Linked DNA regions of Homo sapiens: region 2 is linked to region 1. The links come from fine-mapping of genetic effects on gene expression. A gene starts in region 1. The other region holds a variant in brackets. All regions are shown on one strand. Distances are between the middles of the regions.

The links.
Region 2: its variant is fine-mapped to the expression of XPO1 in whole blood (TOPMed, PIP 0.90).

Annotation. Positions count from the first base shown.
Region 1 is chr2:61,534,849-61,543,185 of GRCh38, forward strand. It overlaps XPO1 (exportin 1), which reads right to left and starts at 3,508. Exons shown (of 25, transcript NM_003400.4): 1 at 2,714-3,508. RefSeq lists enhancers at 1,299-1,358, 2,079-2,138, 3,233-3,492, 4,061-4,850 and a silencer at 3,983-4,122.
Region 2 is chr2:61,226,654-61,234,990 of GRCh38, forward strand. It overlaps USP34 (ubiquitin specific peptidase 34), which reads right to left. Exons shown (of 80, transcript NM_014709.4): 58 at 5,799-5,879; 59 at 2,895-2,980; 60 at 2,174-2,342; 61 at 1,992-2,066; 62 at 414-565. Among named protein-coding and RNA genes, the nearest start is that of C2orf74-AS1, 53 kb to the left of the region's middle. The variant C/T (reference allele first, on the strand shown) is at 3,675.

The DNA of each region.
Region 1 (8,337 bases):
AAATTGTTTCAACCCTCAATGAATTGGGGGATTGAAATAAAGCTACAAACATATTTACTGAATATATGATCTAGGAAAAAAAACTTTATGGGCAATATGCCTAACAAGATTTTTTAAATTCCAGGTATTCATTGGCAAGGTAAAAGCTGTAAAAGCTTGCCCATTCCCAAATAAAAAAGAATTCTAACAGAAAAATGAGCTACTTCGCCTAAATATGCACTGGTTAAAACCTACTAGTTCATATGCAGTGCTATCCTTTTAAGAGGATTCTACTCTAAGATGCTGGCACACATCCACTTTTTTGTTGCCCAGAATTATAAAATATATCTTTCCTCTGCTTTTCTTCAAAGCCAATGCCACTCAAACCTAATTGGTTAAGTCAGTAGTCCTTAACCTTTTTGGGGGTCTAAGATGCCTGAGACTCTGAGGAACCAATAGCTCTAACCCAGTTTTTAAAAACTCACGATTTTGTATACAATTATAGAGGATTCAGGACATCCTGAAAGCCATCCATGGCACTCCCAGTTTAGTGTATTTAGAACTAACAAGGTCAGATCTCCACTTCTTCCCATTTTAGGAACTTTCGTGGACCAGAAAATGAGTAGCTAATTTCTTTACATTATATTTAGACAAACTAGCTTGGCAGGGCGGAAAAAAAGTCATTAATTCCTGGCTATTTTATAACAGCTTAAAAATGTCCATAACAATAATGGCAGCAAATTCTATTTTAATGCAATTGTCTTATTTAAATATAACGTCTGTTACAACAGATTAGAACTCCAAAAGATGAGTCACCTATGATTGATATGATGTAAAAATAATGTAAAACTCAAGAAATTAGGAGTTCAAGAATTGGTCCATTATTGACAAAACTGATGAGACTTCAAAACGTTTCGTAGTAGGCATTAAACAAACGTTTTTAAACAGCAGAATACTTGTTACACACCACAAAAAAACCTTAAGATCTAAATACTGAGAGGAAATATATATTCCACAAATGAATGTGTAAACTCTCCTCCACCTTCAAGTACCATAAAATTTAAAAGATCAGAACAATCTTAATTATTTGAGGCTTAAAAGCAATGTCCACAAAGCACCAAGATCCATGTATCAAAAGTTTTCAAATATTTCGGTTAAATATTGAACAAACTTTTCACCTATTTACTACCATAGTTGAATGCTAAAACAAAAAAGGATTAAGAAAATGACTCTTACAAGTTTCATTTTCAAATACACTGTTCTTATAAAATTCTCCGAACTAGACTGATGTGAAAAACGAGATTTAGAATAGAAGGATTTAAATACAGTAGTTTGCCATCCTTAGAACTAGCGGCTATCTTCGAAATCACCTACCTATTCCTGAACTGTACATAGTACAGAAATGGCGGCTTTGTGGTCAATGCCAAGCACATTTAGTCCCCCAAATCAAACCGCTTCCAAAACATTCTTTCCACTAACAGCAGTGTCCCACACTTAAGATATACAATCAGACAGCAAACAAGCCATAGTGCGAGAGGTGTAACCACGAACGCTCATTCCCATTGGGCTCTTCAATCCTAAAATCCACTCACTGGATAACATACACTAGGGATTATCCAGCTTAATGGATAATGTGACTCTACAAGTGACACCCAATGCCAATTCCTAAACAAAACCCAGAAAATCATAACCGTTGCTTAATAACTTCACACTAGGTGAAAAACAAGTCGCTACAAGGCGAAAGACTGCTCCTTAGGTTGTGTGGGCAATCGCCCGCTTCATTCAGGAAAAACACACCTCATTAGGGCCCGCCCTCCCCTCGCTTCCCACCCGAACCGATTTGCAGCCCTTCTAACTATAGCACACAGGAGCACGCACTCACCCCGCCCTTACTCGGAGGAGGCATTTAGACCAGGCGCCTTAAGTTCACCGCCCCTTTCTCTATGCAGCATGGCCTCGGCGTGATCAGAGGAGGTCCGGGCTGAGCCAGTACTGAATGCTTCCTCTACTACACCACTTCCTCCCACCCAACCCAAACTCACAGACATCGGAATGAAGGAGAATCAGGGCATCCTCCACTGTACAAGGCCAACAGTAAATGGTTTAACCAACTTATCACATTCAAACCCCTGAAAAGGAACTACAAGACGGAATCCCATGTGCAGGCCCCTGAAAAACTGATCTTTCCTACTTCACATGCCACTCTGCAAAACCGGAGAGCTTTCGAGTTTCCTTGCTGGAGGAACAGGGAGTCGGCAGCCCCTCCCTCCCCCATCCCAAGCTCTCCACCGAGGGGGCCACGTGATGCAGGCGGACGTTTCAATGCTGCTGCACTAAATATTTCTGGAAACTTCCACTCCTAATAATTTACAGAGATGTTCCTGAAATCACCCCAACTTCTCCCCAGCCCCAGGGGCTGGGGAACCCCTCCCACCCCGCGCGGGGCCCCGCTTCACTATCACACTCCTCGCCTTCCTCCACCGCCACCCGCACACGCGAATGACCCAGCAAGCGCTCCCCTCCCGAGGCCGCCTCCCCGCCTCCATCCCCCAGCGGCAAAAGCGGCTCCATTCAATCGCAGGCTCCGCTGTGGGCCCGCCGCGCCCCCGGCCCGCCCGCCGCCTCCCGGGCTCGCTTCCCGCGGCCGCCGCCGCCGCGCCCCACGCCGGCCTCCTCCCGCCCGCCCGGCCGCGCCGCCGCCCGACCCTCGGCCCCGAAGACACAGTCGACTTACCCAGAGATTGAACCAACTGCTCCTTCCTTCCTCGTTGGGGGATTAGGGCGAGGGAAGGTGGGGAGGGGGGAGAGGGGACGAATCAAGGTGGGTTTCAGTTTTCCCACCTCAAAAAAGGAAATTAAAAAAACGGACAGGAAAAGGGCAAAAAGAGCTCAATAATATTTACTATTTCAGGGACGCTTCCCCCAACACACACACACACACACACACACACACACACCCGCCCCCCCCCAAAAGGGGAATTAATCTGGGGAATAAATGCTCCCGCCCGGCTGGGGAGTGAGGGAAGGGGGAGGGAACGGGGTCAAGTCCCAAAGATTCAGCCCCAGGGGGACCCTCCAGCCACAGGCAGCAGCAGAAGCGGCAGGAGTAGGGGGTGTAGAGTCCACACGGCCGGGGAGACGCTCTGCTGCCAGTTGCAGTCCGACTCCCCCCTACCAAAACACGGCTCCCTCTCTCACGCGGCTCCGGCGCTGGCCCCCCCCCCCCCAAGGCTCGCCTAAACTTTCCCCCCTTCTCTTGTTCCTCAGCGACTGGTGGTTCCCCCCTCCCCCTCTGGGTGGTTGCACGGACTGCAGCAGCAAAGACTGGAACAGGCACCGCCGCCGGGGCTGTAGCTACTGTTGCTCTTGCTGATGCTGTAGCTCCCGCTGCTCCTGCCGCGGCCGCTGCAGCCGCTTCTCCCCCTCCTCCTAGTGCCTCAAACTCGGAACCGGTTGAAACCGGTTCAGACTGGGAGATTCCATCTCGGTTGAGTTTTCAGCCCATGGCGCCGCGGAGCGTTTGGAACCTGGGCCTCCGCCCCCAGCCCGCCCTCCTATTGGTCAGTTCCAGCTACAGCCGCGCCATGAGCCTATCTCTCATTGGCCCGAGCGCCAGTCAATCCCGCCTCACGGCTCCACACGAGCCCGCCGCTTCGGCCCCTACCTCTTTTCAGCAGCGATTTGCCCGCAGAGTGGGGGAGGGGAAGTGGGGAGGGTCGAAAGGCAAGAGGAGAGGGGTGGAGGAGGAGGAGGTGGGACGAAGAGCAGGGATGAGTAGAAAAGAGAGCGAAGGAAAGCCGCGTGGAGGATTCGTTCGAACGAGCTGTCAATCAAGAGCAGCCCGCCCTCGAGCTCTCGACTTCCCTTCCCCCTGCGGCCCTCTCCCTCCCGGTGCCTAGTTCGCAGGCCCGGCCTTTCTCGCCCGCTCATTGGCTGGGCCTCTTCGGTGACGGAGAGGGTGGGGCGCAGCTCGTGAGCTGGTGGCGGCGCGAGTTTGATCGGGGCGCGCGGCAGCGTTCTCTTTGCTTCCCCCGGACTCGGCCGGCCCGCCCCCACCGGCTCCCGCCAACCTGCGGGGGCCTGAGCCCGCGGGAATCAGGATCCGCCCTTCGGATGGGGGCTGCGTTCGGAAAAGGGAGGGCACACCCAGTTTTGAACTCTGGAAGGGGTGGAGAAAAGAGGGAAAAAGAACGCTTCCGAGGCCAATTTTAGGCCCCAGACCTCTCTAATCCATTTTAGAGGCCTGGTTTTGGGGCCAGGTAGCTGAGAGAGGGGTTGGGGTGAGGCGCAGGGCGTGCATTCTTGGCGCCTCGTGATCTTCTCAGGGTGTCGGAAAAGATATCGAAATACTTCTTGGGAAAGTCTCCTTAAAATTTCAACTCTGTCTCTCCAGGCTGGAATTTGGCTGCTTCAACAAGCAACCTTTCCTGAAAACCAAAACATTGTAATCCCAAGTGATTGGTTTGACAGCGCATGTTTTGGCTGGCTGAGCTTGCATGCCAACTGCGTCCCACCTGGTGCCCTTGATCTGCAACACTCAGATTTTCCTTTTACCCTAGCTGCACTTCACGTACTAAATCATCATCAAATAGTATTTTCTGTGAAAGTCACATGCACGTTGCCTTTCACGTGGTTGCCTCTCGTTTGTTCCCAAGCGTCCTCCAAATCAGCTTTACAGATTGTTCTTTGCTTAAGAGCAAATAGCCCACCAAAATTTACTAGGCCCTTTGTGCCACCAAGAGGTAGATAAATGATTTATTGAATTAATAACAATTTTCTTTAGCAAATGTTCATCCACGATGGACTATGGCTAACCTCAAAGCACCACTTATTCTAACTCCCCCTCCAATAAAGAAAAACGCAACAACTCAATGTTTAGATGTACCAGAATTATTTTGGATGATTTTCAGACCTAAGTTTTTATTCATTACATAAATGAATAATATCAAGCCATTTTATATACATATATAATACATATATAATGTACTATGTATGATATATGATGTGCAGTGGGCCCTCTGTATCCTGGGTTCCCCATCCTCAGTTTCAACCAGCCCTGGGTGGAAAACATTAAAAAACAACAACAACAATAAAAATAATACAAAATAAAACGCAATGCAGTATATTTACATAGCATTTACATTGTATAAGGCATTATAAGCAATGTAGAGATGATTTAAAGTTTACATCGTATAAGGTATTATAAGCAATCTAGAGATGAAAGTAACGGGAAGTTTACAAATACAGTATATGCAAATACAGTAAATCCTCACTTAACATGGTCATGGAGAGGATCTTGGAAACTGCGACTTTAAACACAAGGATAGGCCAGGCATGGTGGTTCATGCCTTTAATCCCAGCACTTTGGGAGGCCGAGGCAGGCAGATCACTTGAGGTCAGGAGTTCGAGACCAGCCTGGCCACATGGTGAAACCCCTCTCTACTGAAGATACAAAAATTAACCTGGCGTGGTGGTGGGCACTTGTAATCCCAGCTACTCGGGAGGCTAAGCGGGGAGAATGGCTGGAACCCGGGAGGCAGAGGCTGCAGTGAGCGGAGATCACGCTACTGCAGTCCAGCCTGGGCAACAGAACGGGACTCGTTCTCAAAACAAACAAACAACAATAAAAAAAACCTACAAGGACATATAACAAAATCAATTTTACCATAGGCCTGTAATCCCAGCATTTTGGGAGGCAAAGGTGGGAGGATCACTTGAGCCCAGAAGTTCAAGACCAGCCTGGGCAACATGGCAAAACCTGGTCTCTACCAAAAATACAATAATTAGCTGGGCATGGTGGCATGCGCCTGTAGTCCCAACTACTCGGGAGGCTGAGGTGAAAGGATCACTTGAGCCTGAGAGGTTGAGGCTGCATGAGCTGTGATGATGCCATCATGCAGACTGTACACTCCAGCCTGGGTGACAGAGTGAGACACTGTCTCAAAAAAAATTACCAATCTAACTCTGACAAAAGTGTGATTGTGTATGATGCTAAAACAGGGTGAGAGAGAAAGGATCTTTTTTTTTTTTTTTTTTTGGAAAAAGTATCTCACTGTGTCTCTCCCAGGCTGAAAGGATCCTCCCTGACTCAGCCATCTGAGCAGCTGGAACTGTAGATGCATGCCACCATGCCTAGCTAGTTTTTTGTAAATAAATATATATATATATAATATATATTATACATTATAAATATATACATATATGTAATACATATATATGTAAATATATACATATAAATGTAAATATATGTGTGTGTGTATATATATATATATATATATATATTTTTTTTTTTTTTTTGTAGAAAGGGGTTTTGCCATGTTACCCAGGCTGATCTCAAACTCCTGTAGGCGAGTGATCCTCCTGCCTCAGCCTCCCAAAGTGCTGGGATTATAGGCCTGAGCCACCTTGCCCAGTCAGGATACTCATTTCAAGAAAAAATTGACCTGGGAAGATAAAGTATGGGTTGCACCCCTATTTCCATCAAGCTCAATTTAGTGTGGAGAATATTTATGGAAAATTATGAGTATTCTGTCTGTGATGTTAAGACCCCAGTGAATAATCTACGTAGAGTCTGTGAAGCCTCAAATCAATCAGGAGCAGAATCAGCAGTTGCCTGCAGGTGAGTTGCTACCTTTTGAGAACATAGTGAAAAAGTAGGTGACAAGGCTGCTAAATCTAGGAGTTACAGTTTGATAGTCTGAGAAATCTGTACAGTTCTTCTATGAGGTGACATTGAACAATGGGTCCCAAGAATCTCTTACTCATGGAGAAATGAGAGAAGTGTATCACTTAACTTGGACCATTCTCAGACAGGACAGAGGAAGCTATAGCTGTTTTGGTTGAAGTACTTCTAGGCCAAAAATAAAAATAATGAGATAGGGTTATAGGTCTGCTGTAACAGTCAGTTTAGGCTGCTGTAACAAAGTACCATAGTCTGGGTGGCTTAAACAACATTTATTTCTCACAGTACTGGAGGCTGGAAGTCTGAGGCCAGGGCGTCAGCATGGTTTAGGTTCTGGCAAAGGCCCTCTTCGGGTTGCAGACCGGTGACTTCTTCCTGTACTCTCTTGTGAAGGGGGAAAAAAGGCTAGAGAGCTTTCTGGGGTGTCTTTTATAAGAACGCTAATTTCATTCATGAGGACCCTACCCTCGTTATCTACTGACTCCCAAAGGCCTTATCTCCTCATACCATCACATTAGGGTTTAGGATTTCAACATACTGATTTTCAGGGGACACAAATATTCTGTCCGTTGCAATATATAAGAAGCAAAATAGAGTAGGGAAACTAAAGTTGGTATCTGTGGATTGAAAAGATATGCCATTTCTTTCTTGCACAAAAACATCTCATTATGGGCCAGGCATGGTGGTGGCTGATGCCTGTAATCCCAGCCTTTGGGAGGTCAAAGCAGGTGGATCACAAGGTCAGGAGATCGAGACCATCTGGGCCAACATGGTGAAACCCCATCTCTACTAAAAATACAAAAATTAGCTGGGCGTGATGGTACATGCCTGTAATCCCAGCTACTCGGGACGCTGAGGCAGGAGAATCGCTTGAACCAGGGAGTCAGAGGATGCAGTGAGCCGAGATCATGCCACTGCACTCCAGCCTGGTGACAGAGTGAGACTCCATCTCAAAATAAATAAATAAATAAAAATAAAATGAGCTGGGCGAGGTGGCTCATGCCTGTAATCCTAGCACTTTGGGAGGCTGAGGCGGGCAGATTACTTGAGGTCAGGAGTTTGAGACCAGCCTGGCCAACATGGCGAAATCCCATCTCTACAAAAATACAAAAAATTAGCCAGACGTGGTAGTGCACGCCTGGAATACCAGTGCTTTGGGAGACTACTGTGGGAGAATCACTTGAGGCCAGGAGTTCAAGACCAGCCTGGGCAACATAAATGAGAGTTTGGCTCTACAAAACTAAAAAAATTAACCCAGGCATGATGACACATATCTGTGTCTTAGCTACTCAAGAGGCTTAGGCAGGAGGATCCCGTGAGCCCAGGATTCAGGCTACAATGAGCTGTGATCAAGCCACTGCACTCCAGCCTGGGCAGCAGAGCAAGACTGTCTTTAAAAAAAAGAAAAATTATATATGGAGTCATGGAAAAATGTGAAAAATAAACGAAAATTTAAAAAAAAAGAAAAATCAGAAAAAAAACCAAAAAACCTATTTTATCAGGTGCTCTGACTAGAAAAAAATGAAGAACCTAGCAAAGTCAGTGAATCTATTTCAGTAGTTCTCAAACTGAGGGCACTTCCCCAACAAGACATTTAGCAATTAAGTGTTGGCTATCAAAACAACACTGTCAGCTAATGTCAGAATCAGAGCACATTACAGGTAAATCAGAAGGTG
Region 2 (8,337 bases), 310 kb before region 1:
CATTCAGCTGATTCTAGTCTTTTGCTATCAGAAGCATGGTTTCAATAAACAGATTTGCATATACATCTTTCTGTATTTTGGACACAGATTCCTAGAAATGAAGTTGCTAGGTTAAAGAACGAATGCACGCTCTATTTTGCTAGATATTTTACTGTATATTTTTTCAATGACTATTTCTAACACGACTCATAGATGAAGTAAAAGTTTGGTAGAAAAAACTGAAATTCTTATGCCACAAGAGTTGATGAATAGTAGTATTATTTAAAAGGATTTATATAATAAAAGCTAGTGAATAACAATTACATAATTAAACATATATAATAAAAAGCTAGTGGAAAAACTAGTGGTAAACAATTATGTAAAAATAATAAAACCAAACATGCTTTAAACATTTTAAATTCGAAACATTTCACCTTTCTGATCGAGACTGTTCAACCAAAAGAGCAACTAAAGCTATCATCTTTTCAAGGGCAGCTGGCCTGTATTTTTCTTCTGCCAGAGAGAGGATATCTTCTTCCTCCTCTTCTTCTTCCCCTTCTTCCTCTGATAACACTTCAACTTGAGGCTAAGTTGGAATAAAATTCAATTTTAATACGGTAGTAGTTTTAATATCATTTTGAGAACAAATGACTTGTTTTATGTAACAGTGTAGATGGTGGCAGGAGCTTGTAACATGAAAAACAACTGCACAAAGACCTAAACCTAATGTAAAACACTCTAAACCACATTCAGGACAATCTTAGATTAAACTGCCAGAACTGTAAAGAATAACAATTCTCTGCCGGGCATGGTGGCTCACGTAATCCCAGCATTTTGGAAGGCTGAGGCGGGTGGATCATTTGAGGTCAGGAGTTCGAGAACAGCCTGGCCGACATGGTGAAACTCCGTTTCTACTAAAAATACAAAAATTAGCCAGGCGTGGTGGCACGCGCTTGTAATCCCTGCTACTCGGGAGGCTGAGGCAGGAAAATCGCCTGAACCTGGGAGGTGGGGGTTACAGTGAGCTGAGATAGCACCACTGCACTCCAGCCTGGGAGACAGAGTGAGACTCTGTCTCAAAAACAAACAAACAAACAAACAAACAAAAAAAAAACAAAAAACCTCAACACTGACTACTTACCTTACCTATAAACCCTTGAATAACTTTTTTCTTATAAGCAAGCTCATTGGAAGACAAGTCACGATAAAAATTGCAAGTATGATAAAATAGTATTTCCTATTTAATAAAAATGCCAGTTATACAAAATAAGAAATTCTTATTTATAGTTCCCTGATAATCCAAATAGTGGGTATTTCAAAGAGATATTCACTTGGGCTTCTAAATGCAGACTCAAAAGATTTTATGATCTACTAGTGTATATTCTGTGAAGCATTACAAAACAGTGTTTAAGAGTTTTAGCTCAGTAGTCTGACCGAGGATCAAAGCACAACAAGTCACTGTGATCTAAAACAAATTAACTTCTCTAAGTTTCAATTGTCTCATCTGTTAAATGGAGATATAAAGGGTACTTATCTCTTATGGTTAAGAAAAGGACTGAAAAAGAGTGCAAGTAGATCATACAACCTAATGCATTTGTTATGAACAACACAAAACTGATGTAATACTTTAATATTATTCATAGACCACCTACTTAAATTTTGGAAAGACTCTCATAAACTTAATAGCAAAGAACTTAAAAATGTGACCAGCAAAATGTTCACAAAAACAATTCACTATTGATAAGACCCTAAAGTAGGTGACCACTTTGCCTAAGTTTATTTGCTTTGTTCCAGACCTTACCAATGAATGAACTTCATTACCTAGTTGTTTCTTTCTTGCTATATCCATTAAAATTACATTAAAAACATCAACCAATCTTAGACCCTTCATATTATCTAACACCAGGTTCCAGAAGGGACTTTAAAGGGTTCTAACATCTCAGGACTTCGCACGATGCAAACTATGAAAACCAGAGCCTCTAATACCTAATGTACGATAGAACTGTACTTACATTTTCAGGTCCTTTTGTTCCCATGTAAAAATGTACCATTGTAGATATAGCTTGCAATGAAAGCAAAAATTGGCTCTAAACAAACAAACAAACAAAATTTAAAAATATAAAATAAAAGCAATTAAGTTGCAAATACTGAAAAAAGGTAGATAATCAAAAAAATAGACAAGATATAGCCTCACCTCTTCTTCACCCATTTTTGCAAATTCGTAAAGGAAGGCAAAATACTCTGTAAGATGTTTACTGTGAGGTTTTACACCATGTTCCATAATTAATAACAGGGTTCTCACAAAGCGAGTGACACATGAACGACCACCAATATCTTCTACTGAGGTATCCATATCATCTGACCTAAGAGACAATTAAATAGATCTTAGAGAATGTATGAGGTCTGGAAATACTGTTCGAGAGAAAAAGTACTTTTTAAACTCTGAATTTCTTTTATCTTTGAGATAATGAATATGAACCGCAATAACTTAAGTAGTTATTGTGACTGGCTAAATCAATGCAAACAAAAAGACTAAGCCATAAAGTAATTTGTAGAGGATTTTGCAGATGCAAAATTTAAATAAAACAAAAACAGTTTTACCTTCTTGAATGTATTATTACAGATTATTTTTTAAACAGAACAAATATTTCAGTGTGGATTTTAAAAAATATTTTGTAGGCAGGTTGTTAAGAAACTTAAAAATTAGGGCTAAGCATGGTGGTTCATGCCTGTAATCCTAGCAATTTGGGAGGCCGAGGCGGGCGGATCATTTGAACTTACGAGTTTGAGACCAGCCTGGGCAACATGAAGAAACCCTATCTCTTAAAAAAAAAAAAAAAAAACAAAAAAAAAAAACAAAAACACCACACACACACAACACAGACACACAAACTTATTCAAAAAGTACTTCTTACCCATCTTCCATTCCTGGCTGCAAATAGAGATGAGCATGCACAGGTCTCAGCCTCTGAATCACATGGATACACAAACGCTGAAACATCTGTGAAGAAAGAAAAAGATCAAACAAGAGCCAACTCATCAGGTAACAAAGATTTGAAAAATTAACATGATTCAAAATTCTCTGCCACCCATTTATAGTTTGCACAAGATTATCTTGGTATTCTGGAGCTCTTCTGGAGTCTCAACAATGGACTAAGGAAATGAGGCAAAGGTAGCATTAAAAAAATTCAGTTTTATGATAAAGAGAAAAAACTCAACAAACTGTACATTTCAGTAATACAGATGATCAAAAACAAAGCTTCAAAAAATCCTTTTAGCTAGTGGAGATACAGAGAAAAGAAAATCTAGTATCCAATTCCTTAAGAAGAGTGGAATGGGGAAGGGCCGCTGCTCATCATGGGGTCAGCAGCTAGGAGAAGGAAATGTGAGGATTCTTTAAAGATACACAAGTGACCCACAATCACATGAAAAAAATGTGTAACCATTTTGAGAAAAATGCATACCAAAACCACAATAAGATACCACTTCATACCTTCTAGGATGGCTAAAATAAAAGACAGTATCAGCTGCTGAAGATTATGGTGAAATTAGAACACTTATATATCACTGGCAAGAATGTCAAACACTGCAGTCACTATAAAAAAACAGTTTACCAGCTGGGTGCAGTGGCTCAAGCCTATAATCCCAGCACTTTGGGAGGCTGTGGTGGATCACCTGAGGTCAGGAGTTCGAGA[C/T]CAGCCTAGCCAACATGGCAAAACCCCACTTCTACTAAAAATACAAAAATTAGCCGGGCGTGGTGGTGGGCACCTGTAATCTCAGCTAAGGAAGCTGAGGCAGGGAGAACTGTGTGAAGCCGGGAGGTGGCGGTTGCAGTGAGACGTGATCACGCCATTGCACTCCAGCCTGGTTGACAGAGTGAGACTCCAACTCAAAAACAACACCAACCAACCAACCAAACAAAAAACACCAGTTTACCGCTGGTGCAGTGGCTGTAGTAACAGCACACTGGGAGGCCAAGGCGGGCAAATCACCTGAGGTGAGGAGTTTGAGACCAGCCTGGCCAAAATGGTGAAATCCCGTCTCTACTAAAAATACAAAAAATTAGCTGGGCACGGTGGTGCGCGCCTGTAATCCCAGCTACTTGGAAAGCTGAGGCAGGAGAATCACTTGAACCCTGGAGGCGGAAGTTGCAGTGAGCCAAGACCACGGCACTGCACTCTAGCCTGGGCCACAAGAGCGAAACTCCGTCTCAAAAAAAAAAAAAACAAAACACAAAAACAAAAAACAGTTTACCAGTTCTAAAAACATACACAAAGAAGTGACAAAGTATATCCAAACAAAAACTTGTACTAAAAGTTCCTAACAGCATTACTAAAAACAGCCAAAAAGTAGAAACATCTCAAATATTCAGCTGATGAACAGGTAACACAAAATGTGGACTATATACATTTGACAAACTATTTGGCAAAAAAAGAAAATGTAATATGGATACATGCTGTGACATGAATAAATCCTGAAAAGATTGTTAAATCGAAGCAGTAAGTCACAAAAGACTAATAGTGTATGAGTCCATTTATATGAAATGGTCAAAATAGGCAAATCTATAAAGATAGAAAGTAGACTAGTAGTTGTCAGGTATTGAGGAGAGAGGACAGGATGAAATAGGAACTGATTGCTAATGGGTATAGGGTTTTTTTTTGGTGGGGGGTGGGGGTGGCAAATGTTCCAAAATTAGGTAGTAGTGATGGCTGCACAACTTTGTGACTATACTAAAAACCACTAAATTTTACATTTTGAAAGGTCTGGGTAAATTTTATGGTATAAGAATTGTAACTTAGGCCAGGCTCAGTGGCTCACAACTATAATCCCAGAACTCTGGGAGGCTAAGTTGGGAGGACTGCCTGATCCCAGGAATTTGAGACCAGCCTAGGCAACAGGGGAGAGACACTCTCTCTACAAAAAAATACAAAAATTAGCCAGGTGTGGTGGTGTGTGCTTGTAGTTCCAGCTACTCAGGAGGCTGAGGTGGGAGAATTGCTTGAGCCCAGGAGGTGGAAGCTGCAGTGAGCCATGAAGTACCACCGCACTACAGCCAGGGTGACAGAACAAGACTCTGTCTAAAAACAAAACAAAACAAAATTACCAGGTGTGGTGGTGTGTGCGTGTAGTCCTACCTGCTGAGGCAAGAGGACTGCTTGTGACAGAGCAAAACCCTCTAAAAAAATATATATACATATATATGTATGTTCTATATAAATTTATAAATATATAAATATGATATATAACATATATATGTAATATATACACACACGCATATATATCTCAATAGTAACTGGAAAGTGGCATACGTCAACTAAGTTTTTGATTTTGTGAAAAGTGACTATAAAGTAATATTTAAATTTCATTGTCTATTTTACCCAACAATTTAAAGAAAACAAACTGTTTCGTTTGACAGTTCAGACCCAATCACAGAAATAAGTTACAGCCTTTTCATTAGCTTTTGAGGTCACTATAGTACCCTACCATGGTTAGAATGTGTAAGGATTTTAAAAGAATCAGTATAACTCATAAAGCATCTAATAATAAAGAGCAGGATCTAATAATAAAAGAACAGGAAATTACAGTCAATCTTCCTATATCCAGGAAATGTGCATAATTTTAATCACCTTATTAGAGTGAGAGCTGATGTTAAAAGAACCTGGTGAAACCAACAACAAAATGACTTTTATGATAGGAGGCAGATCTTTTCAAACTATTATCAATATTAGGTTAAGACACACTTATAAGCAAATTGAGAATAATTAAATTGAAAGTAACTTCTTTTCCAAATAATTTTTTTCAAACATATTTTTCCTTACCTGTCTCACAATTTGATTAGGGCACTTAATTAGTATCTGCATTGGCCACCAGTCGTCATCAGCCATACGATCTAAAAACCACTGTTAAAAAAAAATACAGCATGACTTTAACATTCAACAAATATTTGTTACATGGGATAACAGTCACATAAGAATTTTATTTCTAGTCAATGTTTTAATTCTTTTAAGTTCTTACCAGAAAAGTTTCTCTAATTGTCATAAAAGTCAAACTCTAAAATCATAATAAGGGTTACCTCATTACACAACTCCATGGAATGCCATTTACATTATAGTACACAATGTGCATGACAATCTGTGGTCCTTTATCATAATAAAATATCATTCTCTTAGCCCTCATAAATGTGACATAGAATCTTTAGTTCTTATTAATTATATATATATATATATTCCCCCCCCCCTTTTTTTTTTTTTTTTTTGAGACAGATCTTGCTCCGTTGCCCAGGCTGGAGTGCAGTGGCACGATCTCGGCTCACTGAAACCTCTGCCTCCCAGGTTCAAGTGATTCTCCTCCCGAGTAGCTGGGATTACAGGCACGCACCACAATCCCTGGCTGATTTTTGTATTTTTAGTAGAAATGGGGTTTCACTATGTTGGCCAGGCTGGTCTTGAACTCCTGACCTCAGGTGATCTGGCCGCCTCAGCCTCCTAAAGTGCTGGTATTATAGGCGTGAGCCATGTCACCCGGCCACCTATTAATAATATGTGATATGAGCATGATTAATTTTCTTTCTGTTTAAAAACAAATTATGATCTAATTAGCACTTGAGAAACTCTGGATCTATCGAACAGCCATGAGAAGAGAAGGAAACAGAGGAACATGTTAAACACCACCAGGAAAATGCAATTAGTCAAAGAAAGCATGTGGGAAATCCTACAGCACAAATGACAAAAAATGGCATGGAGAAAAAAAAAGTAACTTTTATAGATTAAGGAAGACTTAACAAACAGATGAATGCAAAATGTGGAACTTGTTTGAACCACTCATTTAAACCAATCAACTGAAAATTTTTTTTTGAGATGGAGAAAACTGAACATAGGATGGGTATTAGATGACAAGAATAAATCACTTCTGGCCAGGTGTAATGGCTCATGCCTGTAATCTCAGCACTCTGGGAGGCAGAGGCAGGAGGATAGCTTGAAGCCTGGAGTTTGAGACCAGCTGGGCAACAAAGAGACTCTGTCTCTATAAAAAAAGAAAAAAAATTAGCTGAGTGTGTTGGTATGTGCCTGTGGTCCCAGCTACTCGGGAGGCTGAGGGAGGAGGCTGAGGCAGGATTGCTCAAGCCCAGGATTTTGAGGTTGCAGTGAGCTATGACTGTGCACCACTGCATTCAACAGCCTGGATGACAGAGTGACACCCACTCTGGGGGTAAAAAAAAAAAAAAAAGTTATAAAGATGAGAAGTCACTTCTAATATTACTGGGAGTGAATGAAATTGTGGTTGCATATGTTTTTGAAGTTTTCTTATGTTAGAAATATATACTGGGTGTTTATGGATGCATGATCTATTTAGGTTTCCTTTAAAATTCTTCCATTATGGAAAAAAAAGGAATAGGGGATAGATGAAACAAGAAAGAAAGATTATTATTATTTATTGAAGTTGAGGAACAGGTATGTGACAGCTTATTATCCCTTTCTACTTTTGTCCATGTTTCCAAATTCTCATTACAAAATTTCAAAAAGTTACACTTTAGTGTTTGAAATTTCTGAGGAATAGATTCCCTTACTCTATTTCTATAAGGTATAATCAGATGAACTTCTAAATATGCAAAAAACCTTTAACTATAATTCATCTATTATATACCAGACTGCTATTCCCCACTTCTGTTAATTCGTAAGACTTGCCTTCCTATGGAGATTTACAACTCTTTGGTTGCTAACCTAGAAGTTAAGATGGCAATATGATTAAGCTGTCATTACCTTTGAGTGGGTTATCCTTAGGGATGCACCTCTTAAAATAGGGGATGGAGAGAGAAAACCAGGCATAAACTGATCTACTGAGACAGGTGGATAGGTGAATTTTTTTTTGGCGGGGAGAGTGGGGAAAGAGGAAGTGACAGATGATGTTAAGCATTTTCTAACAACATACAAAAGTAGTTAAGAGAGGGATGGAAGAAATAGGAAGATGATGTTGGCCAAAGAGTACAAAGTTTCAGGTTTATTTTTTATTTTTATTTTGTTAAATTGAGACAGAGTCTCACTCTGTCGCCCAGGCTGGAGTGCAGTGGTGTGATCTCAGCTCACTGCTTCTCTGCCTCAAGGGTTCAAGTGATTCTCCTGCCTCAGCCTCCCCAGTAGTTGGGATTACAAGTGCACACCACCATGACCAGTTAATTTTATTTTTAGTAGAGATGTAGTTTTGCATGTGGGCCGGGCTGGTCTTGAACTCCTGACCGCAAGTGATCCGCCCGCCTCAGCCTCCCAAAGTGCTGGGATTACAGGCGTGAGCCACCATGCACAGTCCCAAGTTTCTGTTTTAAATAAATTCTGGGGATCTTATGTACAGCATCATGACACT